6 separate regions of the Homo sapiens genome follow, and all the other regions are linked to region 1. Evidence: fine-mapped expression QTL. A gene starts in region 1. Each other region holds a variant in brackets. All regions are shown on one strand. Distances are between the middles of the regions. Region 1 holds the start of RCBTB1 (RCC1 and BTB domain containing protein 1). Region 2 overlaps SETDB2-PHF11 (SETDB2-PHF11 readthrough). Region 3 overlaps CAB39L (calcium binding protein 39 like). Region 4 overlaps LOC105370205 (a long non-coding RNA gene). Region 5 overlaps RCBTB1 (RCC1 and BTB domain containing protein 1). Region 6 overlaps RCBTB1 (RCC1 and BTB domain containing protein 1).

Evidence for each region. PIP is the estimated chance that this variant, and not a neighbour inherited with it, causes the effect. A credible set is the group of variants that fine-mapping cannot tell apart.
Region 2: its variant is the best candidate, but not a certain one, in a credible set for the expression of RCBTB1 in whole blood (INTERVAL, PIP 0.88).
Region 3: its variant is the best candidate, but not a certain one, in a credible set for the expression of RCBTB1 in unexposed skin (GTEx, PIP 0.75).
Region 4: its variant is the best candidate, but not a certain one, in a credible set for the expression of RCBTB1 in esophagus mucosa (GTEx, PIP 0.72).
Region 5: its variant is the best candidate, but not a certain one, in a credible set for the expression of RCBTB1 in lung (TOPMed, PIP 0.51).
Region 6: its variant is the best candidate, but not a certain one, in a credible set for the expression of RCBTB1 in whole blood (TOPMed, PIP 0.52).

What each region holds. Positions count from the first base shown.
Region 1 is chr13:49,582,594-49,587,556 of GRCh38, forward strand. RCBTB1 (RCC1 and BTB domain containing protein 1) reads right to left here and starts at 2,965. Exons shown (of 13, transcript NM_018191.4): 1 at 2,851-2,965. RefSeq lists a silencer at 2,489-3,198.
Region 2 is chr13:49,448,948-49,453,910 of GRCh38, forward strand. It overlaps SETDB2-PHF11 (SETDB2-PHF11 readthrough), which reads left to right. Exons shown (of 21, transcript NR_135324.2): 2 at 2,606-2,962. It overlaps SETDB2 (SET domain bifurcated histone lysine methyltransferase 2), which reads left to right. Exons shown (of 14, transcript NM_001160308.3): 2 at 2,606-2,962. The coding sequence starts at 2,947. Among named protein-coding and RNA genes, the nearest start is that of SETDB2-PHF11, 7.2 kb to the left of the region's middle. The variant T/C (reference allele first, on the strand shown) is at 2,389.
Region 3 is chr13:49,424,115-49,429,077 of GRCh38, forward strand. All of the region lies in intron 3 of CAB39L (calcium binding protein 39 like), which reads right to left. Among named protein-coding and RNA genes, the nearest start is that of CAB39L, 17 kb to the right of the region's middle. The variant T/C (reference allele first, on the strand shown) is at 1,998.
Region 4 is chr13:49,635,627-49,640,589 of GRCh38, forward strand. It overlaps LOC105370205 (a long non-coding RNA gene), which reads right to left. Exons shown (of 2, transcript XR_941964.3): 1 at 4,242-4,963; 2 at 1-1,492. Among named protein-coding and RNA genes, the nearest start is that of ARL11, 9.6 kb to the left of the region's middle. RefSeq lists an enhancer at 180-229. The variant TG/T (reference allele first, on the strand shown) is at 2,881.
Region 5 is chr13:49,546,318-49,551,280 of GRCh38, forward strand. RCBTB1 (RCC1 and BTB domain containing protein 1) reads right to left here. Exons shown (of 13, transcript NM_018191.4): 9 at 3,141-3,331. Among named protein-coding and RNA genes, the nearest start is that of RCBTB1, 37 kb to the right of the region's middle. The variant G/A (reference allele first, on the strand shown) is at 2,228.
Region 6 is chr13:49,562,020-49,566,982 of GRCh38, forward strand. RCBTB1 (RCC1 and BTB domain containing protein 1) reads right to left here. Exons shown (of 13, transcript NM_018191.4): 4 at 4,599-4,749. Among named protein-coding and RNA genes, the nearest start is that of RCBTB1, 21 kb to the right of the region's middle. RefSeq lists an enhancer at 3,518-4,325. The variant C/T (reference allele first, on the strand shown) is at 2,647.

The sequences.
Region 1 (4,963 bases):
GCCAGTTTAAAGGTTAGGAATCCAGATGCTGGAGACATACTCATTCTCTCATTCTCATTCTCTCTCCCCGCTGAGTCTCCATTTTACATGCCCACCGGCAATGTACAACAGTGCTGCTTTCTCCAGTATTTACTGTCTTTTGTATTATACCCATCCTAGTGGATGGGAGGTGGTATCTCATGGTTTTGATTGGCATTTGGAGACCATTCTCTTCTGAGGTCACCTATTTTTCCCCTATGAAGAAAGAGTTAGGCTTTTTGCTAAGAGTAAGAGGGGAGGTAGCAATAAACAGTGGAGTGGAGGCCGGGTGTGGTTGCTCACGCCTGTAATCCCAACATTTTGGGAGGCCAAGGCGGGAGGACTGCTTGAGGCTAGGTGTTCAAGACCAGCCTGGGCAACATAGGGAGACCCTGTCTCTACAAAAAATAAAAAAATTAGTCGAATGTGGTGGTGCGCACCTGTGGTCCCAGCTACTTGGGAGTGGGGAGGATCACTTGAGCCTGGGAGTTTGAGGCTGCAGTGAGCTATGATCACATGGCACACTGTACTCCAGACTGGGCGACATAGTGAGACCCTGTCTCAAAAAGAAAAAAGTGGAGTGGAGCAATTGGGGGTAAAATGGTGAAGTCTGAAGCAGTCACCAGGGAGGATGGGAAAGAGCACTGAGCAGAGAAACCTAGCAGGATGGTAAGACCAAGCCCAGAGAAAGCTGGAGACCGTAAGTCTTTAGAGGTACCCATCTGGTCTCCTCTGTGAGCTTTTCTACCCCAGGAAAGAAGTGTGCTTTTGTGTATGTGTGTGTGTGTGTGTGTGTGTGTGTTTTAAATGTGATCTAACACACAGTTGACTTATATAATTATTTCATTAACTGATCTCCTCTACTAAGTCTATTCTGGCTAAATTCAGACAACACTCATCATACCCCTCTTGTGCATTCTTCAGCACGTACACAACATGTACTTTTTTTTTTTGAGATGGAGTCTCACTGTGTCGCCCAGGCTGGAGTGCAGTGGCACAATCTCGGCTCACTGCAACCTCTGCCTCCCCAGGTCAGGTAATTCTCGTACCTCAGCCTCCTGAGTAGCTGGGACTACAGGCGCACACCACCACGCCCAGCTAATTTTTTGTATTTTTAGTAGAGACGGGGTTTCACCATGTTGGCCAAGCTGGTCTTGAACTCCTGGCCTCGTGTAATCTGTCGCCTCAATCTCCCAAAATGCTGGGATTACAGATGTAAGCCACTGCGCCTGGCCAATATGTAACATTTTTAACTTTTTGTAAAACCAGAGAATATTTTGAAATGTGTCCGAATGCCCTGCCTAGATTCTAGACTCTGTGAGGCCCCAGCCTCCTTTCCTATGCATGACTTACTGTTTAATGTAGTACACACAGAAGGGATATCATCATCATAATAAAGGTCCTCACTTTCCTTCACAGTTTCATCTACCCCACAATGACTCCCAGGAAAAGGAGGGTACTGTTTCAGACTTCCCAGCTCCCGTATATTAGGTGGAGCCAAGTTCTTGCTGCAGCATACGGGCACGCTTTAAAATTTTCAAATCATTTTTTAAAAGCTACAAGCTTGACAGCTTTGGGTTTTTATGGCTACTTGTTTTCTGAAGTTCACAGAACTTTATCATTTGGATCACACACTTAAAAAAATCACTTGCAAAAATCTCTTTAAAGATGAATATGCTTCCTCTTCAAGAGAAACAGACTAGCGGGTAGAAGAAAAAGGACCCGTCTAGAGTATTAATAAATAGACTGATATTCACACAATGGATTAAATGGATTAAAGTCCATCCCACAGATGAACTGTTATATTAATAGAATCCAAATATACAGTTACATCCTCGACCCTGAAAGCAGTTTAAACGGGTGAAATTCACCCAGTGCTCACTTGAAATGAGTACTCTAAAGTTTAAAGCACCTATAAACTGCCCTCAGGATTCAATCATTTTTCCATTCCTTCCGGCATTATATACTTTGATGTTTTAATGTTATTAGCCCACAATACACACCAGTTTCAGAAACTCAGTTTTTGTCCTCTAAGGGCTTTTAGTCCTCCCAAAAAAAGAATAGGGCAAAAGCAAGGAAGATCATGAATCTGGTTTTCTAAAAGCATTATTACAAGACTGCTTTATAAAATTGTAATCCCCAGCTGCAGAGTTCCGCAGATGGCTTGAAAGTGTCTTACATGCAAATAAATAAAAACAAAAGGCCACTTATGCGAGCAGAACACAGCGTGCTCGATAGTCATCTTAAACCGAGCAGGTAGGTACTTTATCAGAGGCAGACAAGGGAAACGTCACTTATTTAGAGTTCACCGCACGCCTGGATAAAAGTCCTCACTAACAAAATCCCTGCCTTTGTGGATTCTGTGTCGGAAAGGGAAACGATAAAGAATACGGTTTGTGACAGCACTACTCTCAGGAGACGAAGGAGAGATGCTAAGATCTTGGAAAGGAGAGAGAATAGGAAGAGTCGGAGGGGAGATCTCCTCTCAGTAAAACGGCACCCACAGCAGTCAGACTTCAGCTACGAGCAAAATCGAGTCCGTGCACCTCAAAAAAGAGAGGGAGGCAGGGAAAACTTTCCCTCGCCTCTCCCCATCCTTCCCTCCTCCTCGCAGGAGAGCACATTAGCTGAGGTGCTGGCGGGGCCGGGCCGGGGACCCCATCCCTCGCCCCGGACGCAGCGCCCGCAGGGACTGCCCGGGAGCCCGAGCGAGGGAGGCGGGAGGTACAGGAGTAACGGGGCACTCCCGGCCCGGCCTGCGGGGAAGGGAAGCAGGGGCAGGGCCGAGGGGGAAGAGGCCTCCGCGAGCTCGACCCCGCGCCCACACGCTACCTGCGAGGTCAGCTGCTGCCGCGCCGTCCCGCGGGACCGCAGGGATCTCCGAAGCTCCAATGGGCGCAGAAGTGCGAGCGAGCGGCGGTGCCCACCGGCAGCGAAGAGGAGGAGCGCCAGGGCGCCGGGCCCGCCGGGTCACGTGGCCCCGGCCGCCTCACGTGACCCGGTGCAGCGCGCGCCCGGGACGCTACCCAGCCGAGCATCCCGCACCGCCCCGGCCCCGGCCCCGGCCGAAACCCTGCTCTTCGGGCCCTACAACCCGACTTCTTTAGAAGCCGATTGGCCGTCTCAGGCCCGCCCCGAGGCCCTGCCACTGGAGTGTCCCCATGAAATCCGGTGGCTGCTGCCGGGACTTAGAGGCTTTTGTGTCTGAGGAACCAGGAACGCGCGAGGCACGGGCTCCTGCTCTGCTCCCCGAGATGGCTTGGCTGTGGGGAGGGTCGGCCTACCACCCCAGAGACCTAGGACGGAAAAGCGACCGAGAAACTTGGCTCCCTGCCCACTCTAGAGCGCGTCTGGCCCCGGGGCACCACCCAGGTGGTGCTGCCTGGGAGGAAAGGCGGCGGAGCTGGGACTAGTTTGTTTTTACTGGAGACGCGCCTCCCTCCCTCCCCGCCCCTCACTTCCTGATTGAAAGTACCTGAGGCAGGCCAGGGACTAGGGAAGGTGGCAGCTGGACAAAGGTATGAAGGAAGGACGAGATGAGGCACAGGTCCTGGTATTGGAAAGAGGCAGAGGTACCTCGGAAGCATGCCATAGAGGTTAGACGGGACCTAAGAGGGCATCTGGTCCAACCGGATTCGTGTTACCAGCGAGTAAACTGAGGCCAGGAGAGGGACTGCTACGAGCTGCTCCAGCCTATCACCTATAAAGACTACAGTCCCTTTGTAAAATACCATACAGCTCTCGGAGAACTCCCAGTTGGCGCTGCAGGATAAAATCCAAACTTGTTGGCATAGCATTCCAGCCACTTGTTCACTTACCTTTCCCATTTGAGCTCCTAGGAATAAACAGAAAAACATTTCATTTTCTAAATATCACCAGATAACTTCACTTTTGGTAACTTGAATTATTAAAAAAGTCCTACCGTCCCTCATCTCTTGCCACTTCCCCAACATTACTGGAGGCTCTGGCTACAAATAATTTGTTTTCCTTGACTACTCAACTTTCTTTGGATTATTTACTTTTTCTCTAAGTTTCTTTACTCCTTTTTGCTTTGTTCATTCTTTTGTCTGTATCTGAAATGTCCTGAATCACCACCTCCCCCACTTAAAGAAAACCAGGGCCAATGATTAAAAAAAAAAAAAAAGGTATTAAGAAACTAATGCAATAAGAGAATTGAGCTTAGTTCTGTATCTATTCTGAGGTCTCGCTCCTGTTGCACTAGTTCCTGAATAAAATGTTTTTACCACTTCAACTACTGTTTGGCTCTGGTTTTCTTCAACAGCCTCCAAAGTACACATCAGTTTCCTACTCATCTTTCAAAATCCAGGTCAAATGCCGCCTACTCTTGTCTTCCCAGCATCCTCTTCCCTGATTTTTTAGCAATTGAAGTTCATCCAGACAGTGTCAGCTGCAACTTCTTCCCTGATTTCCAGAATACTATATATATTCTGATACACCTCACACTGCCCAGAAATAGACTGCGCATTTCCTGTAAAAGGTGAATTGTCTATTGCTGTCTTCTCCCTTAGATTATAAACTCTTTGAAACAGGATTCTTCTGGGTTTAGAACAGCGCCTGGCATGTGATAGACCCTTAATACTCACTGAATGAAGTGGCTTGCCCAAAGTAGTGGCAGTTGAGTGAATTTACTAGAAGAGGCCTGTTTTGCTCAAAGAAACTAAAATCAGTTTCTTTTGGTTGCAACCCGATCAAAAGAACTTGTGTAAACATGTCTGAGAGAAAAACGAGGGCATGGGGTGTGAGCAATCAAATATGTCCTGAGCCCTCACTGCTTATGTGTCAGATGCCATACTTGGAGCATCTTGGAGGATTAAAAGCTGAATGAGACATGGTTGCTGATAAGGAATGTGTAGTCTGGTTCATTATTCCAGTACAGGGTGAAAAGTATTATGATACAAGGTGCTAAGTGAACACAAACCAGGGA
Region 2 (4,963 bases), 130 kb before region 1:
TGTTCTGTCAGCATAAAATATTTGTGTCTTTTATTGATTTTCATATTCAACTCTTATTTGATACGTTTCTTCTTATAATTGCAGATGTCTTTTTCCAGTCTCTTCGTTTTCAGCCTTGCTGTGACATTTTGTGTAATTTAAGTGGGTCTCTTATTTTAAAATATCATATCTGGGTTTTGCTTGCCATCCAATCTGAGAGTCTGCCCTTTAATAGGTAATTCACCTTTATTGTGATTATTGACATATTTTGGCCTTATTCTTGTCATTATTTAACAAGCTTCTCTTTGTATCTTTTATATCTTATTTTTCCACCTGTTTTTTGGAACAGAGTCTTGCTCTGTTGCCCAGGCTGGAGTACAGTGGCGTGATCTCGGCTCACTGCAACCTCTGCCTCCCAGGTTCAAGCAATTTTCCTCCCTCAGCCTCCCAAGTAGCCCAGATTACAGGTACACACCACCACACCCAGCTAATTTTTGTATTTTTGGTAGAGATGGGATTTCGCCATGTTGGCCAGGCTGGTCTTGAACTCCTGACCTCAGGTGATCCACCCACCTCAGCCTCCCAAAGCGCTGGCATCACTTTTATTTTTAATTGAGGTTAGCCCCAAGTTTTCTTTGTTCATTTTTTTTTAAGTTGATTAACTTTACATTTCACAGTTCTTAAATTTATGTTTTCTTAACAAAGTGTACATTTAGTCAGTTTTGATAAGGCCCCTGTAAAGAAGAAGTTAGCATGCTTCTACTTTGCTTTCTCTCATCTTGAAACAATCCCTTCCATCTCTCCTCCAGAAAAGAACATAATCTCTCATGATATCTTTAAGAATTTTTCTTTCATTTGTTATTAAATTCAGTTTACATTTAACATTAATGTGTTTTACTCATTTATTTGCTCACTATTGCTACGTATACCTCAGTGCTTTCTTATAGGTTCATTTTTCATCATCAGATACTTATTTCTTTCACAGTCTCTGAGTGACTCTTTGAATGTCTGCAAATGTCTTTTTTTCATCTTTAGTATGGAAAGATAGCTTGGCTGGATATAGAGTTCTGGGTTCATACTGACTTTGCTTTAACATTTTGCATCTGACATTTCTGATGAGAAATCTCATTACTAGTCTAATACACCTTCCTTTTAGATAATCTACATTTTTCTGGAAACATCTAAGACTTTGTGTTTTTGATATTCTGAAGTTAGTCACGGTTTGTCTAGCGATGTGTGTTAAGAATTTTATCCTGGTTGGTACTCAGTGGATTCAGTTTGCTTATGTGTTTTCCAGTTCTGAGAAATTCTTGCTCATTATTGCCTCCTCTCCATTTTCTCAATTTTTTGCCTCCTCTTGTTTCCTTGCTCTGTGTTCTTGGTGAATTACTCAACTCAGTCTTCCAGCTTACTAACTGGCTCTTCATGTTAGTCTGTTCTGTCATTCAGTCATCTATTGAGTTTATTTCAACAACTGTTTTTATATCCAAGATAGCTAACTGGCTTTTTTTCAAAATTGTGTGTTATTTCATGGATGAGATTTCCTTCTTTAGCTCAGTCTCTTTCATAGTGTAGCCTTCTTCAGATATTTGAGGACTCTCAGTTGTGCATTAATCTCCTCTGAGAGGATTCCTGCCCATCGTTTTGCTGTTGTGATTGTGGTTGCCATCATCTCTATAGCTTCCCATCTGTTTCCTTTCCCCAGAAGGGCCTTACTGACTTGGCCCTTAGAGAGTTCCCTTTTTGTTTTCAGCATGGCTATATATATATATTTTAAATCTCCTAACATTTCCATGGTTTGGTGTGGAAGTGGCAGAAGAATTTACAGTATCTTGACTAACATCTTGAGAATTAAAATTGTTGATCTATTTTTGACCTATTATTCTACCTCCAGATATGTTATCCTAGGGAAATTGCCAGAGATATGTATAAAGTATATTTATTTTAGCATTATTTATTATACTAAAAATTAATCTATAAAGGAAAACAATCTAAATATCGAATATAGAGGTTTATATTATTAATTAATATTTTTATTAAAATTTAATTATTAAAATATTTAATGTACTATAATGTATGCGTTATTGACCAAAGTATGTTATACAGCCAGTTGTATTATACAAAAATATTAGTGATGGAGGAAAATGCAGGAAATGTTTTTAATGAAAGATTATAAAAAATTAAATATACTACAATCCAAATTTTTGTTTTAAAACTACATTCTGAAAGAATAACAATAATTGGTAGTATTCCTTGAATCTTTCGTATGTCAGGCACATTATATGTAATTAAGTCTTGTCCTCAGAACAACCTGTGAGATAGTTAGTATTATCCCCTTTTTAAAAGGTTTATAAAAGACTTATAAAATGGAGATAGTAATATAAATACAAATATATTAAATATGGGTGA[T/C]AGGATTGGGTGGGCCTTCTCTATTATTTCTAATTTTGATACTTTACATATTTTTTCCAGATAACATAATGTTTTTTTGTAATGGTTCATGCTGTTTTAAAAGATCAAGCTGTTATAACAATATCTTATTTCCTTATATATACATATATATATATATATATATATATATATGTGGTCCTTTACAAATATGCACTATTCTTTATTGTTTTCCTTACAGAATGTTTCATCCATTTGTGGACCAAAAGATGGAGTTGGTTTTTATTTTTAAAAAGATAATGTTAATGATCTGATACCACTACAAATATTTACGTGAGAAGATTCATGGACTTGTCTTTTGGTTGGACTGTCACTCATTTCTGAAAGTTTCTTCAGCCACAATTTCTATTTGAAAATTCAAGTATCAAAGGATACCAGGTTTAGAATGGTATAATGATGTATTTTGTCTGAGGACTGCAAATTTTATAGAGACCACAGTTGGATTCCAGTGATATTCTGCAATCAAAGTGATTTGATAAACCTAATTTTGAAGCATTTTATATTTATAAGCGACATCAAAAGATGGGAGAAAAAAATGGTAGGTTGAAGAACACACTGTTACACTTTATATCTAAAAGTATAAAAGTATATAGACAATGTAAGCTGATGTGGAATTGTCAAGGTTTTGCATTGCGAGGAACTTTTCTGAATTAGAGGGAATTAAGGGTTTATTCTTGTATAGCCACCAATTTTGACTGTCTTTATCATTAGTTGTGAAAAAATTGACTTTTTTGTAAACTTTTTTTTTTTTCTTTTTTTTTGGTGATGGAGTCTCTGTCGCCCAGGCTGTAGTGCAGTAGCACAATCTTGGCTCACTGCAACCTCTGCCTCCTGGGATCAAGCGATTCTCCTGCCACAGCCTCCTGAGTAGCTGGGATTACAGGCATGTGCCACCATGCCCAGCTAATTTTTTGTATTTTTAGTAGAGATGGGGTTTCACCATGTTGGTCAGGCTGGTCTCAAACTCCTGACCTCATGATCTGTCCACCTTGGCCTCCCAAAGTGCTAGGATTACAGCACTTGCACCTGGCCAAAATAGGTGAGCCACTGCACCTGGCCAAAATACTTTTAGTGTTACAGAAAAATTGAGAGGATTGCAGAGTTCCAGTAAACCTGGTACTTAGCTTTATCTATGATTAACATTTTACATTTGGATGCTACATTTGTTACAATTAATGAACCAATATTGGCACATTATTATTAACTGAAGTCCATAGTATATTCACGTTAGTTTTTACCTGATGTCTTTTTCCATTCCAAGATCCCATCCAGGACACCACATTCCATTTACTTGTCATGTCTGCTTAGGCTCCTCCTAGCTGTGATAGTTTCTGAGACTTTTCTTGTTTTTTATTTTTTTGGGATTTTGTATCCAAATATTTTGTAAGATGCCCCTCTGTTGGAATTATTGTCTGATGTTTTTCCATAATTTGACTGGAGCGATGGGTTTTGGGGAGTGTGATCTCAGAGGTAAAATGTCATTTTCATCACATCATATCAAGGGTACATGCTGTCAGCATGATTTCTCAGAGTTGATATTGAACTTGATCAACAGAGCTTGAGCTGGCTAATGTAGGTGGTGGTATCAAATTTCTCCACTGTAAAGTTACTCTTTTTCTCCCATTCCCTGCTATACTCTTCGGAAATAAATCACTATAGGTAGCCCACAGTTAAGGAGTGGGGATTTATGCTCCCCCTCCTTAAATGTGGAATATCTACGTTAATTATATTTGGAATATTTCTGCAGGGGAGATTTATCTCTCTCTCTTCTTCCCTGTTTATTTATTCAGTTAATCATTTATATCAGCATGGACTCATGGCTATTTATTTTATACTTTTTGAGTTACAAGCCAGTACTACTTTATTTATTTTGTTTTTCAAATTGTCCCGGGTTTGGCTATTGGGAGCTCTTTCAGTTGGCTCTTTTTTTTCTTTTTTTTTTTAAGATGGCGTCTCACTCTGTTGCCCAGGTTCATGTGCAGCAGCGCAATCTTGGCTCACTGCAACCTCTGCCTCCTGGGTTCAAGCAATTCTCTTGCCTCAGCCTCCTGAGTAGCTAGGATTACAGGTGTGTGCCGCCACGCCCAGCTAATTTTTGTATTTTTAGTAGAGATGGGGGTTTCACCATATTGGCCAGGCTGGTCTCGAACTCCTGACCTCAAGTGATCCACCCGCCTTAGCCTCCCAAAGCGCTGGGATTACAGGCATGAACCACCATGTCCTGCTCAGTTGGCTCTTGTGTCCCTTTGATATACCGTCATCAGTGTAGGTATTTTTTATTTGTCTTTGTTTTATAGCACTTCCCTTTTGGCACTCGAAGATTGCTCTAGATTGCTCTCGTATATTTCTTACGCATCTTAGAGTGAGCCATTTCTTGAATAACCTGTCAATATTTTTATTGGAAAATGGTATTAGAAACCAAGGTCTGAATGATAGGTGTATTTGTTGTTACTGGAGTGTCCTTGTTTATAGGCCCTTTCAGCTGGCAGAGCAATGAAGTATATATATATATACTAACTTATATATACACAACTCATGG
Region 3 (4,963 bases), 160 kb before region 1:
CACTCCCTGAGTGTAAGTTATAGATCGTGACTTCTTTCCAGAGAGCAGCATGAAAAGAGGGGTAATGGAAACCTGACTGTGGAGAAACCTCACCAACACTACCTCACCCTAGTGATCAAGGTCAACATCAACAGTGATAAGTCACATTGACAGTATGTGATGAAAATGGCACTGCGCTTCTGCGATCTTCCTCAAAACTCGTAACCCCAGTCTAATAAAGAGAAAAACATCAGACAAGTTCAAATTGAGGAACACTTTTACAAAGCACTTAACCAACACTTCTGAACACTGTGAAGGTCATAAAAAACAAGGAACGTCTGAAAAACTGTCACAGCCAAAAGGAGCCTAAGGAGACATGATGACTACATGTAACGTGGCATCCTGGAACAGAAAAGGCTCATTAGGTAAAAACCAAGACAATTTGAACAAAGTATGGACTCTAATTAATGATAATGTAAAAATGTATCAGTATTAGTTCATTAATTGTAACATGTTAATATGTAACAGTTAATAAACTGGTTGTAGGATATATGGGAACCCTCTGCACCATCTTCGCAATTTTTCTGTAAATCTAGAATGGTTTTAAGAAATAAAACTTATTTTAAAACTTGAGAATTAACTTCTCAGAACACTAATTTAGTTTTTAAAAGTCAAAAAATTCCAATGATGGAAAATAAAGGAATACATGAATATATTATGGAATAAATAAGTATATGGAGATTTGCTCCTGACAGGAATTTCTAAATAAGTTTAATGTATATTTTATAATGAGAGGATGGGAATATCAAATTATATATTTTTAAGTTAATGGTACTGAGTTCATTTCACCAGAATTACACCATTATAAAGCTACGATTGACAAAATCCACAAGAATGCATTAAGCAGAAAACACGGCCAAAAACTTTTCAGTAGTAAAACTAATTTAAAATGTAACAAGCACAAAGCAATTCCAATTAAATAAATAATGAAATAGGATGTCAGTTTAGAAAAGAATGAATCTGAATTAATATTTCACAATGCACATGGTAATATATTTCAGGAGGTTAAAAAAGTAAACCTAAGAAAAGTCAAAAAATAACTAAACAGGAGAACATTTTTTTACTTTACCTTAGAAGAAAAATTTGAGTCCTGAAGAAAAAGACAATTTCAATATTGAAAACTTTTATTTTTACATGAAAAATAAAAACTTTTTATGCAATCAATAAAACAAAAATTATAGGAATAAATGTAACAGACTAGGAGAAATCATTACAAAGCTTGCTACCCAAAATATCCATATACAAAAATATAGGCATATGTAGAAAAATACATATGTCTATACACACGTATATAGAGATGAGTATAAAAGTTCAGTTGTGCATTGCCAAGGGAATAATTTCCAAGTAGGAATACAATAAATGAATCAAGACATAGCAAAATGCATAGCTCTGGTAGCAAAATTATTTGGTAAACTATGCAAAAACAGGCACAAAGCTAAAAATATTTACTATTTGGCTTTTTACAGAAAAGGTTTGCCAACCCCTGGGCTAAAGAAGCAAGTTAATTCACTGACCCACACAATTTTTAGTGAGGTTGAGATAGTCATTACAGACAATCCTTTTCAAAAAAGGAGGGAAATGCAAAGTACATAGAATCAGGTTACTAAAATACAGAGGGAAATGTTGGAAATCTGGAAATTCGTTAAGACTCAGTCCTATTTCCATCGGGAAATGATTCTCCATGGCTCTGGGATCCATCTTCCAGGTTCAGCCCTCTGAGACACTCTTTCTTTTTAATGAAAGGTAGCACTTGCTTTCTGCTAAGCAGTTTTCTCATCATGCTTCCTACTTGTAGAAGTTTGGGGGTCCAAAGGCATCTTTTCATTTTGTACTCTCTGACCCCTTTAATCCAAACTAGTAGTGATCCTTAAAATACATTCCTCTTAAAGCTTTGTGGGGGTCCTAGGAATCTCACTGGGGTTCTTTGCATTAAACAAAAGCCACACGCACAAATCTTT[T/C]TCAGATAAGCCCTCCTCTACCTTGAGATTCTGCTGAAATGGCTGCAGGATAAGGACCATCCCCTTAAGTTTCTTGGACGCGCTATTGTTTGATTGAATGGATTGGTCAGTCACACCATTAGTCTTTCTTTAGAGGCCCTTTTATGTGACTGAAAAGTACTCTGAGGCAGAAACTTAGATCTTTCTTAAATTTTAACAAAGGATTTTACAGCCACACTCTCAACTTTGTCCTTAGTTTTCCTGACAATGCCTTGGATCTATCTGATCCTTGTTCAAGAAGGAAACCAGAATATTTCACCCTAAAATATGCTTCTTTAAAATATTTTTTTTTTTGAGACGGAGTCTCGCTGTGTTGTCCAGGCTGGAGTGCAGTGGCATGATCTCAGCTCACTGCAAGCTCCGCCTCCCGGGTTCAAGCCATTCTCCTGCCTCAGCATCCTGAGTAGCTGGGACTACAGGCGCCTGCCACCACACCCGGCTAATTTTTATATTTTTAGTAGAGACGGGGTTTCACCGTGTTAGCCAGGATGGTCTCGTTCCCCTGACCTCGTGATCTGCCTGCCTCGGCCTCCCAAAGTGGTGGGATTACAGGAGTGAGCCACCGCGCCCAGCCAATTTATTGCTCTTTATTGAAGATTTTCTATGAGCTGGGATTCTAAACCACTCTAAGCCACTCTTGAGTTACTTTTCTCTCATGTGAACTGCACTGCAGCATTACTATACGTGTTTGTTTCTCTCTTGTTCATCTGTTTTTTGCTGCAGGAGTCTGTCCCAACTACGAACTTATGAAGGTTGAGGAAAATTATTATTTCTCCCTTTCACTTAGAAGAAGCCATTTCTTAATTTAGCATCATTTACTGTTTGGAGAGGCTGACATGGTCAAAACTATCAAGTCTCAGCACCTTCAGGTTTATCAATCCTTTCTTTAGCATACTTGCTCCTGTCACTCTTTAGGCACAAACCAGGTGGCACCTTCAAGTCTAGTTGGAAATCTTCTTAGCTACGGTACTCAGTTCATTATGTGCATTCTAGTTTCTACATTACTACAGGTGACAGTGTTGCATTATAAAGCTTATGCTACTATATTAGAAGGATCCCCTTTCCTCCAGTTTCTAAAAAGATTCTCCCATTTTCCTTTAAGCCCTTCCTGGCAACCTCACCAAAAAAACATGAGTCTACAGTTTCTCCAAGATACTTTAGATTTACACTGACAGTGTCTTCAATGTCCATTCACCTTTCATCCACTACGAAGTTCCAAAGCCATGCCCACTTAAAATATTTGTTGCTGGGCACCATGGCTCATATGGGATTGTTCCCAAAGCAATCCCAGCACTTTGGGAGGCCAAGCAGGAGGATCACTTAAGCCTAGGAGTTTGAGACCACCCTGGGCAACACAGTAAGACCATATCTCTACAAGAAATAAAAGAATTAGCTGGGCGTGGTGGTGCACACTTGTAATCCCAGCTACTTGGGAGACTGATATGGGAAGACTGCTTTAGCCCAGGAGGTCAAGTCTGCAGTGAGCTGTGATAGCATCACTGCACTCCAGCCTGGGCAACAGAGCAAGACCCTAGCTCAAAAAAAAATTGTTGACATCACTTATCTTACTTCATTTGAACTGCTATATCAGAATAACATAGATGGGTGGCTTATAAACAATATAAATTTATTTCTCACAGTTCAGGAGGTTGGGAAGCCCAAGATGAAGGTGTCAGCAGATTCAGGGTCCAGTGAGGGCCCACTTCCTGGTTCACAGATGGCCATCTTTTCGCTGTATCCTCACATAGTGGAAGGCGAAACAAGCTCTCTCAGGACTCTTACAAGGACACTAATCTTATTCATGACAGCTACACCCTAATGACTTGATCACCTCCTAAAGGCCCCATGTCCAAATACCATCTCATTAGGGATTAAGTTTCAACATAGGAATTTTGTGGGGACACAATCAGTCTACTGCATCAATCAACCTCTAGTGCCAGTATCAAATTAGTTGTCTACTGTGTAACAATTATCCAAAACTTGTAAGCTTAAAACACATAGCTTAAGATCTATTATTTCACATAGTTTCTGAGAGTCAGGAATCCAGGAGTAGTTAGCTCAATGGTTCTGACTCAAATGTCAGCCTCAGGCAGGAATGCAATCATCATGAAGTTTGACTGGAGCTGGAAGGACTACTGGCTACTGGCTAGAGGCTTTGGTTCTTTGCTGTTTGGGCCTCTCCATAGGGATGCTCACTTGACTAGCTTCTCCCAGAGCAAGTGATCAGCAAAAGCGTGATAAAGATGGAAACTGCAATGTCTTTAATAATCTAATCTTAAAATTAACATTCTGCTGTTTTTTATTGGTCACACAGACCAGTCTTGGCACAGTATGGAAGAAGAATGAATCCACAGGGCGCAAATACCAGCAGGTGGTGGGGGCCATCTTGGAGGCTGGCTGCTGCAGTGGCTTGGCAATTCCAGGCAGAGTCTCATTTACAACACCCAAATAAGGAAGGAAAGAAACAGGGAGGGAAAGGGGGAACTTCTTCACATAACTTCTCTTTTCTTAGGGGGAAAATATTGTTCAGGGAGCTCTCCAATAAACTTCTATATCTCTTTGGCCTGAAGAGAATAAAACAGTTACCCACTAAGTGCCAAGGAGCCTAGAAAAATAAGTATGTGGCATTTTTTGCCTCAATCATAAAAAGAAAGCAGGAAAGTAGGAGGTTGGTATGACTTTTGCATAGACAACGGTCTACCACAAAAGTTAAGTAAAAAGCATAGCAAAGATAAACAAGTCAATGATTACAATCACATATTTTGAATATATATTTCTAAATTCCAGAAATTAAATGGTTTACTTCAAAGATGTCTGAAAATTTGTTTTTAAGTTGATATAAATGTAAACAAAAAATGCTAAATTAATATTCCTCACTATAATTATATAGCATTTTATAATATCCAGACTGTTCATATGTATTCTTT
Region 4 (4,963 bases), 53 kb after region 1:
AATAGTGGCCCACGATCAGTCTGATTGATTGCAGAAAGCAACTAATCAGAGGCTGAAGTGAAGATACAAAGTTACACCCTATGCAAATGTCTGATTGATTGCAGAAAGTGACCAATCAGAGGCTGAAGTGAACTTACAAAGTTATACTCCTCTGCAAATGAAGACTTGGCCTGTGACCAGCCTGACTGGTTGCAGGAGGGGACCAATCAGAGGTACTTTCAGTTTTCATCTGCAATGCAGGGGAAGTTGGGGGGTTGCAAAGGGAGTAGCCTCTGATCCTTTTGTTATTTGGGTGTGGAGAGGTGGGCTTTTCTTTTTGATTCAGTTCTAGGAATTCGGCGCGAATCAGCCTTAGGTTCCCTGCCTCCAGACCCTACTCTCCTGCCTCAATAGCCATGCCCAGTTAGTGTTAACTGTAACTCCCTGCTGGTCTGCCTCCTGCTAGGAGGGACTGAACATCAAATCACTCGCATCGAATTACTCAGCAGGTGAGTTCTGGGGATGATAACCACACAATTCTCTCTGCACGAAAGATGGGTTTGAGAGCCTCAGAGTCTGGGGGAAGCTCTGCCAGCCATCCACTTACTGGCTTACTGTTTGCCTGAAGTAAGCATGGGAATCCCACAGGGTACAAGGTCCCGCATACCCTTCTGGGATTTCCGATGCCCTCTTTGCATGTGCTCTGGTCCATCAAGCTCCCATGCCAGATGCAGTGCTTGTAGTTGCAGCAGTGACCATAGCAGTGGCAACAGTTCTACAGGGTCACAGAACTTTAGGGAAGCCTCCTAACACCCCTGCTCTTCGTTAGGCTGCAGCTGCTTTCCTGTCCATGATTTAAGCATCCTTAGATCCCAGCTGTCCAGGAAGCTCTCCCCACGCACCTCAGCCTAAGTCCAGCCTCCCACTGAGCTCCCATGGCATGACTGTCCAGGCCCCAGCGCCCTTGTGCCCTAACCGGGGCTGTTCCATGTTGATATGTGGTCTCCTCAGGCATGGTGTACACTACTAGAGAGGAGGGGCCAAGTCTTCCATCCTTCTGACCCTCTTCAAAGCCTGGAACAAAATTAGATATTGAGAGTTGTTCATTAAGTACCTGAGTGAATAATGAATAATTGATTAAAGCCAGAGAATCGGGTATCACAGTAAGGAGTCCCTGGGTCCTCCGAACTTTCCAGAATAAAATTCCAAAATGAGAACACCAAGAGGTTCCCTGGCTTGAGAGCCAAAATGGCGGCACAGACCTATATCTCAGGCACACTTTGTGGTAAAAACAAGAAGCCAGACACACTCTTTCTAGACACACGTCACACCCAGAATGACTTAGCTTTTAGTCTGTGGAGGAAAAGGGGTGGAAAGTGGAGACCTGGAACCAGATGAGAAGTCAACGGGAGCAGTAAGTTCAGTGTGTGCCTCCTGTCCCAGCACCTGGGTCAACATGGGCAAGACCTGATGGGGTGGTGGAGATGCTGACCTTTGCTGCTGCCTCTTGGGCCTGTAAGAGCAAATACAATTTAAAAAAAAATTTTTTTTTAATTTTTTTTTGAGACAGGGTCTCTCTCTGTCACTCAGGCTGGAGTGCAGTGGTGCGATCTTGGCTCACTGCAGCATTCACCTCCTGGGCTCAAATGATCCTCCCACCTCAGCCTCCTGAGTAACTGAGACTACGTGGAGTAGCCACCCCACTCGGCTCATTTTTAATTTTTTGTAGAGACATGGTTTTGCCATGTTGCCCAGGCTGGTCTCAGACTCTTGGCCTCAATGAATCCTCCTGCCCTGGCCTCCCAAAGTGTGGGGATAACAGGCATGAGCCACTGCGCCTAGTCTGCAAATTCACATTGAAAGAAGAGGCCTGTTTGATAGATCAGTAGGGTGACTATAATTAACATTAATCTAATATGCATTTCAAAAAAGCTACAAGAGAATAATTTGAATGTTCCGCTGCATAAAGAAAGGATAAGTGTTTAAGGTGATGGATATTCCAGTTGCCGTGATTTGATTATATTAATGTTACCAAATTATTACATATACTTCAAAAGTATATACATCTATTATGTATCAACTAAAAAAATAAGAGTTTTAATTCTCCTTGTGGAAAATAAGGGAAGAGACTTCACCTCCCTCCCTTTTCTTAGAGATTTTACTTTAGGAAACTTCAACTTTTAAGTTCTTTCCTCTGTCTCTTTGAGATGTATGTAAATCTTTTAAAAAGCTAAATAAGGGCCAGGTGAGGGGGCTCACGCTTGTTATCCCCAGCGCTTTTGGAGGCTGAGGTAGGAGGACTGTTTGAGGCCAGGAGTTCAAAGTTACAGTGAGCCATGATTGCATCACTGCACTCCAGCTGGGCAGCAACAGGGGCCCTGTGCTTTAAAATAATAATAAATAATAAATTTAAGAAGCTAAATAAGCCTCTTGGCAGCTTTAGGACTTAGAAATATCTTTTTCAAGGACCAAGGAGCCAACCTTTTGAAACGTAGTCATCAAGAGTTTCAATGGGAGGGTAGGAGCCTGACCTGGCAGGTGCCTCGCTCTAAGTTGCAAAACTACCTCCTGTCCTAAAGCTATGAGAGGTTTGTTTTTCCTTTGAATAAAGCCAATTAGCTAACATAGATGGTGACATCAGTTACCAGGTGAATCTGTGGTAAACTCTGTGCAACAAATGGGGCTGTCAAGTCCTCTTACTTGAGGACTGACTAGCTATTGTCTATGTGGAGAACCTGTCTGGAATAGGTCACCTCTGCATGACTCTATAAAAGGGTGAGGTCTCTTTCTGTCTTTGTAGTCTCTTAGGGGATTGTGTGGGATGTGCATTACATTTTAGTTGAGTGCTTATTCACTAATGAAACAGTTTTCTTTCTCCACTCCCTTTGTGGAGAGATTTCC[TG/T]GGTTGGCAGAGGTTGACTTTTAATAATATTTTCTCCACAGGCCCATCGTCCCCTGACTCTGTGAGCTTTCAGCCACACCCAGGATCAGTCAGATCAACTGCTCAACTCAAAGGCATCCTAGTGAGCAAGGGAAAACTCAAGGTGGTTTTTGGAGGGTGCTTAGTTAGGAAATGATGAACACAGTTCAACATGACTTGCGGCCCTCCCCATGGGCAAGAGTATGAACACCTGTGACTGTTCCTGAACTCACTAAGGAAAGTCTTTTACAGTGTGTGAAGGGTGACCTGGAGTTTCCTTCCCACATGGCTCATAAGAGCAGCAGCTCAGGAAAAACAAAACAAGTATTTATTTATTTATTTATTTATTTATTTATTTATTTATTTATTTTTAGAGACGGGTTCTCACTCTGTCACCCAGGCTGGAGTGCAGTGGCACAATCATGGCTCACTGCAGCCTCAACTTCGTGGGCACCAGTGATCTTCCCATGTCAGCCTTCTGACTGGCTGGGACTACAGGCATGCCCCCCATGTCTGGTTATTTTTTAAAAATTTTTATTAGAAGGCCAGGCGTGGTGGCTCCCGCATGTAATCCCAGCACTTTGGGAGGCCAAGGTGGGAGGATCACCTGAGGTTGGGAGTTTGAGACCAGCCTGACCAACATGGAGACACCTCGTCTCTACTAAAGAAAAAAAAAATATTAGCTGGGCATGGTGGCGCATGCCTGTAATCCTAGCTACTCGGGAGGCTGAGGTAGGAGAATTGTTTGAACCTGGGAGGTGGAGGTTGTGGTGAGCCGAGATAGTGCCATTGCACTCTAGCCTGGGCAACAAGAACAGAACTCCATCTTAGAAAAAAAATGTTTTTATTAGAGACAAGTTCTTGCTTTTTGCCCAGGCTGCTTTTGAACTCCTGGGCTCAAGTGATCCTCCTGCCTTGGCCTCCCAAAGTGCTGGGATTACAGGGGTGAGCCACCATGCCTGGCCACAAAACAATTTTAGAAAAGAAAAAAGCCTTTTATTTTCACTTAATTGTCTTGATTTCCACTCCTCTGAGACATTCACCCCCAGGAAACTTGGCTGTGTAGCTATAGATGATAAGTATTTTTAAATTCTCCTTGAGAAATGGCATTATTCTGCCTTAGATCTCGAACTAGAACCTGACAATGAGTCCTCCTGCTTGCCCCTGATCTGGGGCACACTGATATTTTTGCAGGTTCCTTCAAGCATGAAATTGCAAACCTAAACAAACTGGTTCTCATAAAAGCACTTCCAATCCTTCAAATAAAAGGAGGCAGCCTAATTATAAATAATCTCTGGATTAGAAACATCACACACCACATCTCTTGCAATTTTTATTTTACCTCGTCTTTGAATTCCATGAACTTCAATTTCATGTGGTGTTAAGTGCTGGCTTAACCTGGAGAGAAAATATAAAGGATATAAAGAAATGTATATAAAGATTTCTCAGAGTTATAAAAATACTTCTGTGAGAGAATTGCTACAAAAAGGGAGATGCAAGACCACCCTTTGTCCAAACTGGCATTGTCTAAATGCAGTTGAGTGTCTTGCCTTAGAGTCTGGGCTTGAAGTCAGTCAGAACTGACTAGAACACCAGCCCTACCCCTCACCAATAGGGTACCCTTGGGCCAATTATTTAACCCTTCTAAGCCGTAACTACCTCATCCGCAGAATGGAAATGATGCTAGGAAGTACCTGACAAGGTTCTTGTGAGAATTAAGTGAGATCCTGTGTTCATCTAGTCAACTTGTATTTCTTTATTTTTAATTGTATTATACATTTTTAGAGATGGGGGTCTTGCTCTGTTGTCCTGGTTGGAGTGCAGTGGTGTGATCACAGTTCACTGTATTCTCAAACTCTTGGGCCCAAGGGATCCTCTGGCCTCAGCCTCCTGAGTAGCTGGGACAACAGGTATGGGCCACCATGCCTGGCTAATTAAGATTTTTAAAAAATAGAAATGGGGGTCTCACCATCTTGCCCAGGTTGGTCTCCACCTCCTGGGCTCAAGTGATCCTCCTGCATCGGCCTCCCAAAGTGCTAGGATTACAGGCATGAGCCACTGTGC
Region 5 (4,963 bases), 36 kb before region 1:
TCACAAAGTGAGAGGGAAAAAACACTTTTGACTTTCAGTGGGTGGAAGGGAAAGAAGTTATCTAGGACAGCAGTCCCCAACCTTTTTGGTACCAGGGACCAGTTTTGTGGAAGACAATTTTTCCACGGACCGAGGCGGGGAGGAGGATGGTTTGGGGATGATTCAAGCACATTATGTTTATTGTGCACTTAATTTTTATTATTGTTACACTGTAATATGTAATGAAATAATTACACAACTCACCATAATGTAGAATCAGTGGGAGTCCTGAGCTTGTTTTCCTACAACTGGACGGCCCCATCTGGGGGTGATGGGAGACAGTGACAGATCATCTAGGCATTAGATTCTCATAAGGAGCTCGCAACCTGTATCCCTCGCATGTGCAGTTCACAATAGGGCTTACGCTTCTTTGAGAATCTAATACCGCTGCTGATCTGATGGGAGGTGGAGCTCAGGCGGTAATGTGAGTGATGGGGAGCAGCTGTAAATACAGATGAAGCTTCGCTCACTGCCACTCACCTCCTGCCGTGCAACCCAGTTAATAACAGGCCACGGACCAGTACAGGCATATGGCCTGGGGTGTGGGGACCCCTGATCTAGGAGGATATAGTCAATGACCATATTTTTTCCAAACTTAACATTTAAATTGTTAGGACATTTGTTCTGAAAAGAATGCCTGTGCCATTTTAAGATATAAGAACTGGGGGAAGCCTTTTATAACAAGTCCAGGTTAAGTAGTATATACAAATCTGAAGATGTGTACAGAAGTGCTTCAGCTGGGTATGCCATACATGTGCAATTCTGGCCAAATAGTCCCATTCAGTGAACCAATTATTTTCCAATCACAATACTCACTGCAAAAAAAAAAAAATACTGTATTATACCTAAAGAACATGGCAAAAATAAAGTGAAAGGGAGTATTCAATTGGTTTCACTTTAAGGCAAGCTTAACTCTTCCTAAGCACCCTTGCCTCCATGCCCATGACTGGTCACCTAATTGGGACAACTCCACCTGTCTGACACACCTAAGCATGACGTTTTAGAAAATTAACCTTCAATATCAATTGCTGAACAACCCAAACACCTTAACTGCCAAGAACTACATTAATTTTCAAGCACAGAGCATCATGACCCACTTATTCCCTCTGCTTATAAATAAAACAACTTAAAAGAAATATGCTAGCAAAAAGGCAAACATAAACAAGAAATAAAATAAAAAGATTAAAGTCACCTTGTAAATGGCTACTCAGTTTTAAGACATCCTAGCTTTTTCAGCCAATAATGGACTCTTAAAGAAGACAATATTCAGAAAAGGTACAGATTATGTAACCAAATATCACCCCAAATTCCACTACCCTTTATAATACCTCTGTTTTGATGCCCTTCTGAAATAAAAGAATTTGAAATCAGTTGAAAGACAAAGATAGAAAGAAAGAAGATGGGGTTAATGTGTCACCTTAAAAACCACAAGTTGTTTGCTTTTTTTATTGAGACAGGGTCTCGCTGTGTCACCCAGGCTGGAGTGCAGTGGTGCGACCACAGTTCACTGCAGCCTTGACCTCCCAGGCTCAAGCAATTCTCCACCTCAGCCTCCTGAGTAGCTGATACTACAGGCAGGCACCACCACTCCTGGTTATTTTTTGTAGAGATGGGGTTTCGCCATGTTGCCCAGGCTGGTCTAAAACTCCTGAGCTCAAGCAATCCACCCACCTTGGCCTCCCAAAGTGCTGAGATTACAGGTGTGAGCCACCACACCCAGCCGGTTCTTCACTTTTTTGAAAGTTCATTTTTGGACCAGGCGCAGTGGCTCACGCCTGTAATCCCAGCACTTTGGGAGGCTGAGGCGGGCGGATCACGAGGTCAGGAGTTCCTGACCAGCCTGATCAACATTGTGAAACTCTGTCTCTACTAAAAATATAAAAAAATTAGCCAGGCATGGTGGCACGCGCCTGTAATCCCAGCTACTCAGGAGGCTAAGGCAGGAGAACTTGAACCTGGGAGGCGGAGGCTGCAGTGAGCCGAGATCGCGCCATTGCACCCCAGCCTGGGTAACAGAGTGAGACTCCGTCTCAAAAAAAAAAAAAAAAAGAAAAGAAAGTTCATCTTTGATTGGTATTATATCAAGTTCTGTAAGAAATCTAGTATAACAGAAGTGCTTAAGAACAGGCTACCCAAAAACTTATACAAGAACAGTCATGACAGCACTACCCACGAGAGTCAAAGGTGG[G/A]AACAACCCACATGTCCATCAACAGTTAAGTGACAAACAAAATATGGTGTATATATATATAATGGAATATTATTCAGTCATAAAAGGGAATGAAATACAGAGACATATTACGTCAATGGGCCTCAAAAACATTAAGTAAAAGAAGCCAGACACATGGGTCACATATTGTATGCTTCCGCTTATATGAACTCTCCAGAGTCGGCAAATCCATAGAAACAAAAAGCAAACTAGTGGTTGCTAGGGGTTGGGGGGAGAGGAGAATGGAGTGTGACTAATTAACGTATAAGGGCTTTCTTCTGGGGTGATTAAAACAATTTAGAATTTGACATAAAGGGTGGATGTAGGCCAGGCACAGTGGCAGGTGGATCACCTGAGGTCAGGAGTTCGAGAACAGCCTGGCCAACATGGTGAAACCCCACCTCTACTAAAAATACAAAAATTAGCTGGGTGTGGTGGCTGGTGCCTGTAGTCTTACTACTTGGGAGGCTGAGGCAGGAAAATCTCTTGAACTCGGGAGGTGGAGGTTGCAGTGAGCCGAGATTGCACCACTGCACTCCAGCCTGGGCGACAGAGTGAGATTCTGTCTCAATAAAAAAAAAAAAAAAGGTGGATGTACAACATTATGAATGTTCTAAACGCAACTAAACTGTACCCTTTACAATGGTTAATTGCATGTTATGCGAATTTGATATCAATTGAAATGAAAGCACTTATGAGAGAAAATTTAAAGTTCATGGTAATATTTTATAATATATGAATACATTTGATTATGCACATCTATTTTGACGGAACGTATGAAAGCTAATAGAGAATAAAACATTCTGAGAGATCCCAAAACCAGCAAAGACACAGGAAAACTGGTCAGTTGGTAGTACCATTCTTCCTGGGTGGAGGTGGCCCTGCACTTTCTTACCCACAGACAGGAGGCGCCACGAGACGGCGGGAGTGGCAAAGCAGGCAAACACGTCGTCGGTGCAGGAGAAGTGGGTGAGGTGCGGGAGGATCACGGACTGACCCCGGCACTGGCCCCACATGTACACGTGCCCACCCTGCGTCTTGGCTGCAGACGTGTGGGCAGAGTGACAGGCTGCAATCTCTACCACCCTGAAAAGTTTTAAGAAAAATGCATGTTACTTCATGATCACAGAAGCCCACAGCACACCACACAAGGCAATTTAAAAGTTCATGCTTGCAATACCTCAGAAAACAGTCCAAGTTCCAGGGACACTAGCTGCCAAGTCACAGCAACAAAAGCAACAGATCAGGGCAAGAGCACTGTTCTCCTTTCCCAAATGCCCACTTCTCATCCTCAGCTCACTGTGAGTTAGGATAGATCACACAGACCGCCGAGGAAAACTTGGAAAACAGACCAGCAAATCCAAGCAAATGAGGAAAGTGGACACTGAGAAAATGCCCTAACAAATGTGATGGCTTAAATACCATTTCTTTTTTTTTTCTTTTTTGAGACAGGATCTCACTCCGTCACCCAGGCTAGAGCGCAGTGGCATGACCATGGCTCACTGCAGCCTCGACCTCCCAGGCTCAAGCAATCCTTCCACCTCAGCTTCCCAGACCACAGCTGCACCACCATACCCGGCTAAGTTTTGTATTTTTTATAGAGACAGAGTCTCGCTATATTGCCAGGGCCGGTCACCAACTCCTGGGCTCAAGTGATCCTCTGCCTTCGCCTCCCAAAGTGCTGGGGATTACAGGTGTAAGCCATCGTGCCTGGCCCATTTCTTTATAAATGTAACTTTTTCTCTCATCTCCTACCAGAGCTCAGAACACTCATTGGGCTGATAAGCATTGGCTGGGGGTCACGGACTCTGAACGTTCCAATCCAAAAGGAAAACAAGCCAAACTTACTATATTTCTCAGTAGTATGCTTCTTGGGTAAGGTCTCATAATCAGAAGTCAGCACTCCAGGACATAGGAGGTAAGACCTTACAATTAGGCTGAACAACATCAAGCATCTATTCCAGTAACACATATTATATCAAATCAATATTTAAACAGATAATGTCCTTTCAAGAGCAGATTTATTTAAAAGTTGTTTTACTTGGCTCAAAGTAAAAGTTTATATTACACCATAAACATCAACATGGCCATAGACCTTACTTGTCTTCCATACTAAAAGGGCAACAGCAAGACTGCAGTAATTATACCAAGATGCATTCACACCTATCAATCACAGGTGGTTATTTCAGAGAGCTACATAAGAATCATATCAACCTCATGTTCATTCTGGCTACTACTCAAAACACTTTTGCATAGGCCAGGCACGGTGGGGCTCATGCCTATAATCCCAGCACTTTGGGAGGCCGAGGTGGGTAGATCACTTGAGGCCAGGAGTTCAAGACCAGCCTGGCCAACATGGCGAAACCCTGTCTCTACTAAAAAATACAAAAATTAGCTGGGCATGGTGGTACACACCTGTAATCCCAGCTACTCAGGAGGCTGAGGCAGAAGAATCACTTGAACCCACGAAGTGAAGGTTGCAGTGAGCCGAGATCGTGCCATTGCACTCCAGTCTGGGTGACAGAGACTCTGTCTCAAAAAAGGGAAGGGAAGGGAAGGGAAGGGGGGAGGGAGAAGGGGGAAGGGGGAAGCAGGGAGGGAGAAGGAGGAAGGGGGAAGGGAGAAGGGAAGGTTATCTCTTTTGTCCAAAATGAGAATGTTAATAAACAGAAGAATCACAAAGCCAAACACCACAGCTCTGCCACACACAGCCCCAAG
Region 6 (4,963 bases), 21 kb before region 1:
TTGAACCCAGGAGGCGGAGGTTGCAGTGGGCTGAGATTGTGCCTTGCACTCCAGCCTGGGCAAAAAGGACTCTATCTCAAAGAAAAAAAAAAAAAGGTTAATTTTAAAATAACCTGTAATTCTAAATAATCTCAAATAGAAGACGCTGAATCCATGAAACAATAGCAACAAGTTCTGGAAAGAAACATTTAAAGATCAAGAAAGAACACTTGGAAATAAAACAATGGGAATGTTAAAAATTTGACATAAGCGTTGTAAGATAAAGTTGAAGAAATTTCCCAGAACACAGATGGGAGAGAACATTTTTAAAAAATCATGAAGATCAGGCCAGGCATGGTGGCTCACACCTGTAATCCCAGCACTTTTGGAAGCTGAGGTGGGAGGATTGCTTGAGCCCAGGAGGTTACAGGTGTGAACCACCTGCTCACACAGTGAGGCTGCAGTGAGCCAAGATTGCACCACTGCACTCTAGCCTGGACAGAGAGACCCTGTCTCAAAAAAAAAAAAAAAAAAAAATTTGGAAGATCACTCCAGAATCTCTAACTTTCTAAGAAAAATTCCATAAAGGAGAAAACAAAGAAGAAAATTTTTCTTTTTTTGAGATGGGGTCTCACTCTGACCCTCACTCTGTCACAAAGGCTGGAGTGCAGTGGCGCAATCATAGCTCACTGCAACCTCAAACTCCTGGGCTCAACTGATCCTCCTGCCTCAGCCTCCTGAGTAGCTGAGACTACAGGTGCGTGCCACCATCCCCGGCTTTTTTTTTTTTTTTTTTTTTTTTTTTTTTAAGAGACATGGCCTCGCTATGTTGACCAGGCTGGTCTTGAACTCCCGGCCTGGAGCAAACGTCCTGCCTTGGCTTCCCAAAGTGCTGGGATTACAGGCATGAGCCACCACACACAGCCAACAAGGGAAACTATTCATGAAATATTACAAGAAGAAATTTCCAGAAATGACCAATACAATAAATTAAAAATTACACCAGAGTACAGAATCATGATTATGTCACAATACTTAAAAAAATAAAAATAAAAATAAAAAAAAGATCCTTGAAGCTTCCAAAGAGGAAAAAACAGTCACATACAAAATAGCAAAAGTTGCCAGGCATAGTGGCTCACACCTGTAATCCCAACACTTTGGGAGGCCGAGCCACAAGGATCACTTGAGCCCAGGAGTTTGAGACCAGCCTAGGCAACATGGTGAGACCTCATCTCTACAAAAAAATTTAAAAATGAGGTGGGAAGATCGCTTGAGCCCAGGAGGTCAAGGTTGCAATGAGCCATAATCACTCCACTGTACTCCTGCCTGGGTGACAGAGAGAGAGAGACCCTGCCTCAAAAAAAAAAAAAAAAAAAAAAAAAGGCCAGGCACAGTGGCTTATGCTTATAATCCCAGCACTTTGGGAGGCTGAGATGGGTGGATCACCTGAGGTCGGGAGTTCAAGATCAGCCTGGTCAACATGGAGAAACCCTGTCTCTACTAAAAACACAAAAATTAGCCAGGCATGGTAGCATATGCCTCTAATTGTACTTCGGAGGCTGAGGCATGAGAATTGCTTGAACCCAGGAGGCTGATGTTACAGTGAGCTGAGATCGTGCCACTGCACTCCAGCCTAGGCGATAGAGCGAGACTGTCTCAAAAGAAAAAAAAGGAAAGAAAGAACCAGTGTGATGCCAGAAGGCATGATTACGCAAGGCAAAAGTGAGATAATCACCTCATTATGCTCAACTCCAGTTATATTCATACCACATGATGATGCTCAGATTTGGATTTCACAGCTCTCTTGAGAAAGATGCAGAGAACTTGAAGTAGATTCAGTTAGGAGTTACAGGCACTTAGAAGGCTAGATACTAAAACCTGTGACAGCATTCTAGGAAGCTGTGATTCCTCAGTCTAGACAAAGAAAGGCCGGGATGCAAATCATCTCCCAAATGCCACCCTAGACAATTATCCAACAAAAAGCTGAGGACCTCAGAGAAAGAGAGCAAGAGTTAATGTATCTAAAGTATAAAAGGAAGCATTTAAATAGATAATGAATTTTCAGAGAGTGTTGGGTGCCCACAGTACAGATCGATTACACACACATACAAAATGTCCACTCTCCCTTAGTGATCTTGAAGAGGCAGAGTAAAAAAGGACAAGAACCTATCAACCTGCATCCCCGGTTCTTTCAATATGGCAACTACATGAATGCCAGAGAACAGATGAAGATTTCCCGATTCAAGATGCAAGCAATGCACAAAGAAAGGAAAGCCAGGTAGCATCTATGTTTAGAAAAATGTACCGGCCGGGCACAGTGGCTCATGCCTGTAATCCCAGCACTTTGGGAAGCCAAGGTGGGCGGATCACGAGGTCAGGAGTTCCAGACCAACCTGGCCAATATGATGAAACCCAGTCTCTACTAAAAGTACAAAAATTAGCCGGGGCGTGGTGGCACGCGTCTGTGGTCTCAGCTACTCGGGAGGTTGAGGCAGAAGAATCGCTTGAACCCAGGAGATGGAGGTTGAGTGGGCCGAGATCATGCCACTGCACTCCAGCCTGGAGACAGAGCGAGACTCCTTCTCAAAAAAAAAAAAAAAAAAAAAAAAAATGCCGGGCGCGGTGGCTCACGCCTGTAATCCCAGCACTTTGGGAGGCTGAGGTGGG[C/T]GGATCACGAGGTCAGGAGATCGAGACCATCCTGGCTAACACGGTGAAACCCCATCTCTACTAAAAATACAAAAAATTAGCCGGGCATGGTGGCGGGCGCCAGTAGTCCCAGCTACTCGGGAGGCTGAGGCAGGAGAATGGCGTGAACCCAGGAGGTGGAGCATGCAGTGAGCCGAGATTGCACCACTGCACTCCAGCCTGGGCGACAGAGAGAGACTCCGTCTCAAAAAAAAAAAGAAAGAAAGAAAAGAAAAACGTACCAAAGGAACCCTGAAAGTTGCATTGCAGAACAAAGACCAGTGAGCTATTAAGGAATAGGATTGCAGCTGTCCCGCTCCCGCTCCCATTCCCACTCCCGCTCCCTCTCCCTCTCTTTCCACGGTCTCCCTCTGATGCCGAGCCGAAGCTGGACTGTACTGCTGCCATCTCGGCTCACTGCAACCTCCCTGCCTGATTCTCCTGCCTCAGCCTGCCGAGTGCCTGCGATTGCAGGGGCGCGCCGCCACACCTGACTGGTTTTCGTATTTTTTTGGTGGAGACGGGGTTTCGCTGTGTTGGCCGGGTTGGTCTCCAGCTCCTAACCGCGAGTGATCTGCCAGCCTCGGCCTCCCGAGGTGCCGAGATTGCAGACGGAGTCTCGTTCACTCAGTGCTCAATGTTGCCCAGGCTGGAGTGCAGTGGTGTGATCTCGGCTAGCTACGACCTCCACCTCCCAGCTGCCTGCCTTGGCCTCCCAAAGTGCCGAGATTGCAGCCTCTGCCCGGCCGCCACCCCGTCTGGGAAGTGAGGAGCGTCTCTGCCTGGCCGCCCATGGTCTGGGATGTGAGGAGCCCCTCTGCCCGGCTGCCCAGTCTGGGAAGTGAGGAGCGCCTCTTCCCGGCCGCCACCCCATCTAGGAAGTGAGGAGCGTCTCTGCCCGGCCGCCCATCGTCTGGGATGTGAGGAGCGCCTCTGCCCAGCCCCGACCCCGTCTGGGAGGTGAGGAGCGTCTCTGCCCGGCCGCCCCGTCTGAGAAGTGAGGAGCCCCTCCACCCGGCAGCCACCCCGTCTGAGAAGTGAGGAGCCCCTCTGCCCGGCCGCCACCCCGTCTGGGAGGTGTACCCAACAGCTCATTGAGAACAGGCCATGATGACGATGGCGGTTTCGTCGAATAGAAAAGGGGGAAATGTGGGGAAAAGATAGAGAAATCAGATTGTTGCTGTGTCTGTGTAGAAAGAAGTAGACATAGGAGACTCCATTTTGTTCTGTACTAAGAAAAATTCTTCTGCCTTGGGATGCTGTTGATCTATGACCTTACCCCCAACCTGGTGCTCTCTGAAACGTGCTGTGTCCACTCAGGGTTAAATGGATTAAGGGCGGTGCAAGATGTGCTTTGTTAAACAGATGCTTGAAGGCAGCATGCTCGTTAAGAGTCATCACCACTCCCTAATCTCAAGTACCCAGGGACACAAACACTGCAGTAGGCCGCAGGGTCCTCTGCCTAGGAAAACCAGAGACCTTTGTTCACTTGTTTATCTGCTGACCTTCCCTCCACTATTGTCCTATGACCCTGCCAAATCCCCCTATGCGAGAAACACCCAAGAATGATCAATAAAAAAATAAAATAAAATAAATAAATAAATAAATAAATAAATAAATAAAAAAGTTGCATTGCAACACAAATCCACTGAAAAATTAGGCTGGAAGGACCATCATTTGCTATATCTAATCATCCACAGCTTTATGGAGGCAGTCGAAAACCTCAGAAGTTTGCCTAATTTGCAAGACATCCTATAGCTTTTCCAGAGTTAGCCCGAAGTGTTTAACTTTCACCTGCTTTATGTACTTCCTCTCAGAAATTAAGAAGCAAACAATCCAAAATCAGTTATCTGGTATAGCCCTATCTCCCCTAAGCTTAGAATTAACCGGTCAATTTCTTACAAACTGAAAAGTTAGATGGGTTCCCTCCTTACCTTCGGTGCTGAGAAGAACATGTGGTCCACTCCCGTAACTGAGGCTTTTAATCTTCTTTCCACATAAGCCTTCTAGCTTTTTGGGTACAAGTGTACTCTGGTTATCTCCAGTTCCTAGACAGTTACTATAGTTCAGTCCAAATACAAAGACCTAGAAAATAGATAGTTTTTTTTCTGAGTCTTTTGACCGAAAGCTGTATTAAAAGCTCCCTTCTCTCCTCTGAAAATAAGACATTTCAACTACAGAGCTCAGGAGGTGAAAAGAGACTGATATGGTTGTTAAGAAAAATTCAACCTCTGTGGACATTGCTTACGTTTCAGAATGTTTGTCTATATTATGAAACTCAGAGTGCTATGGAGTAGAC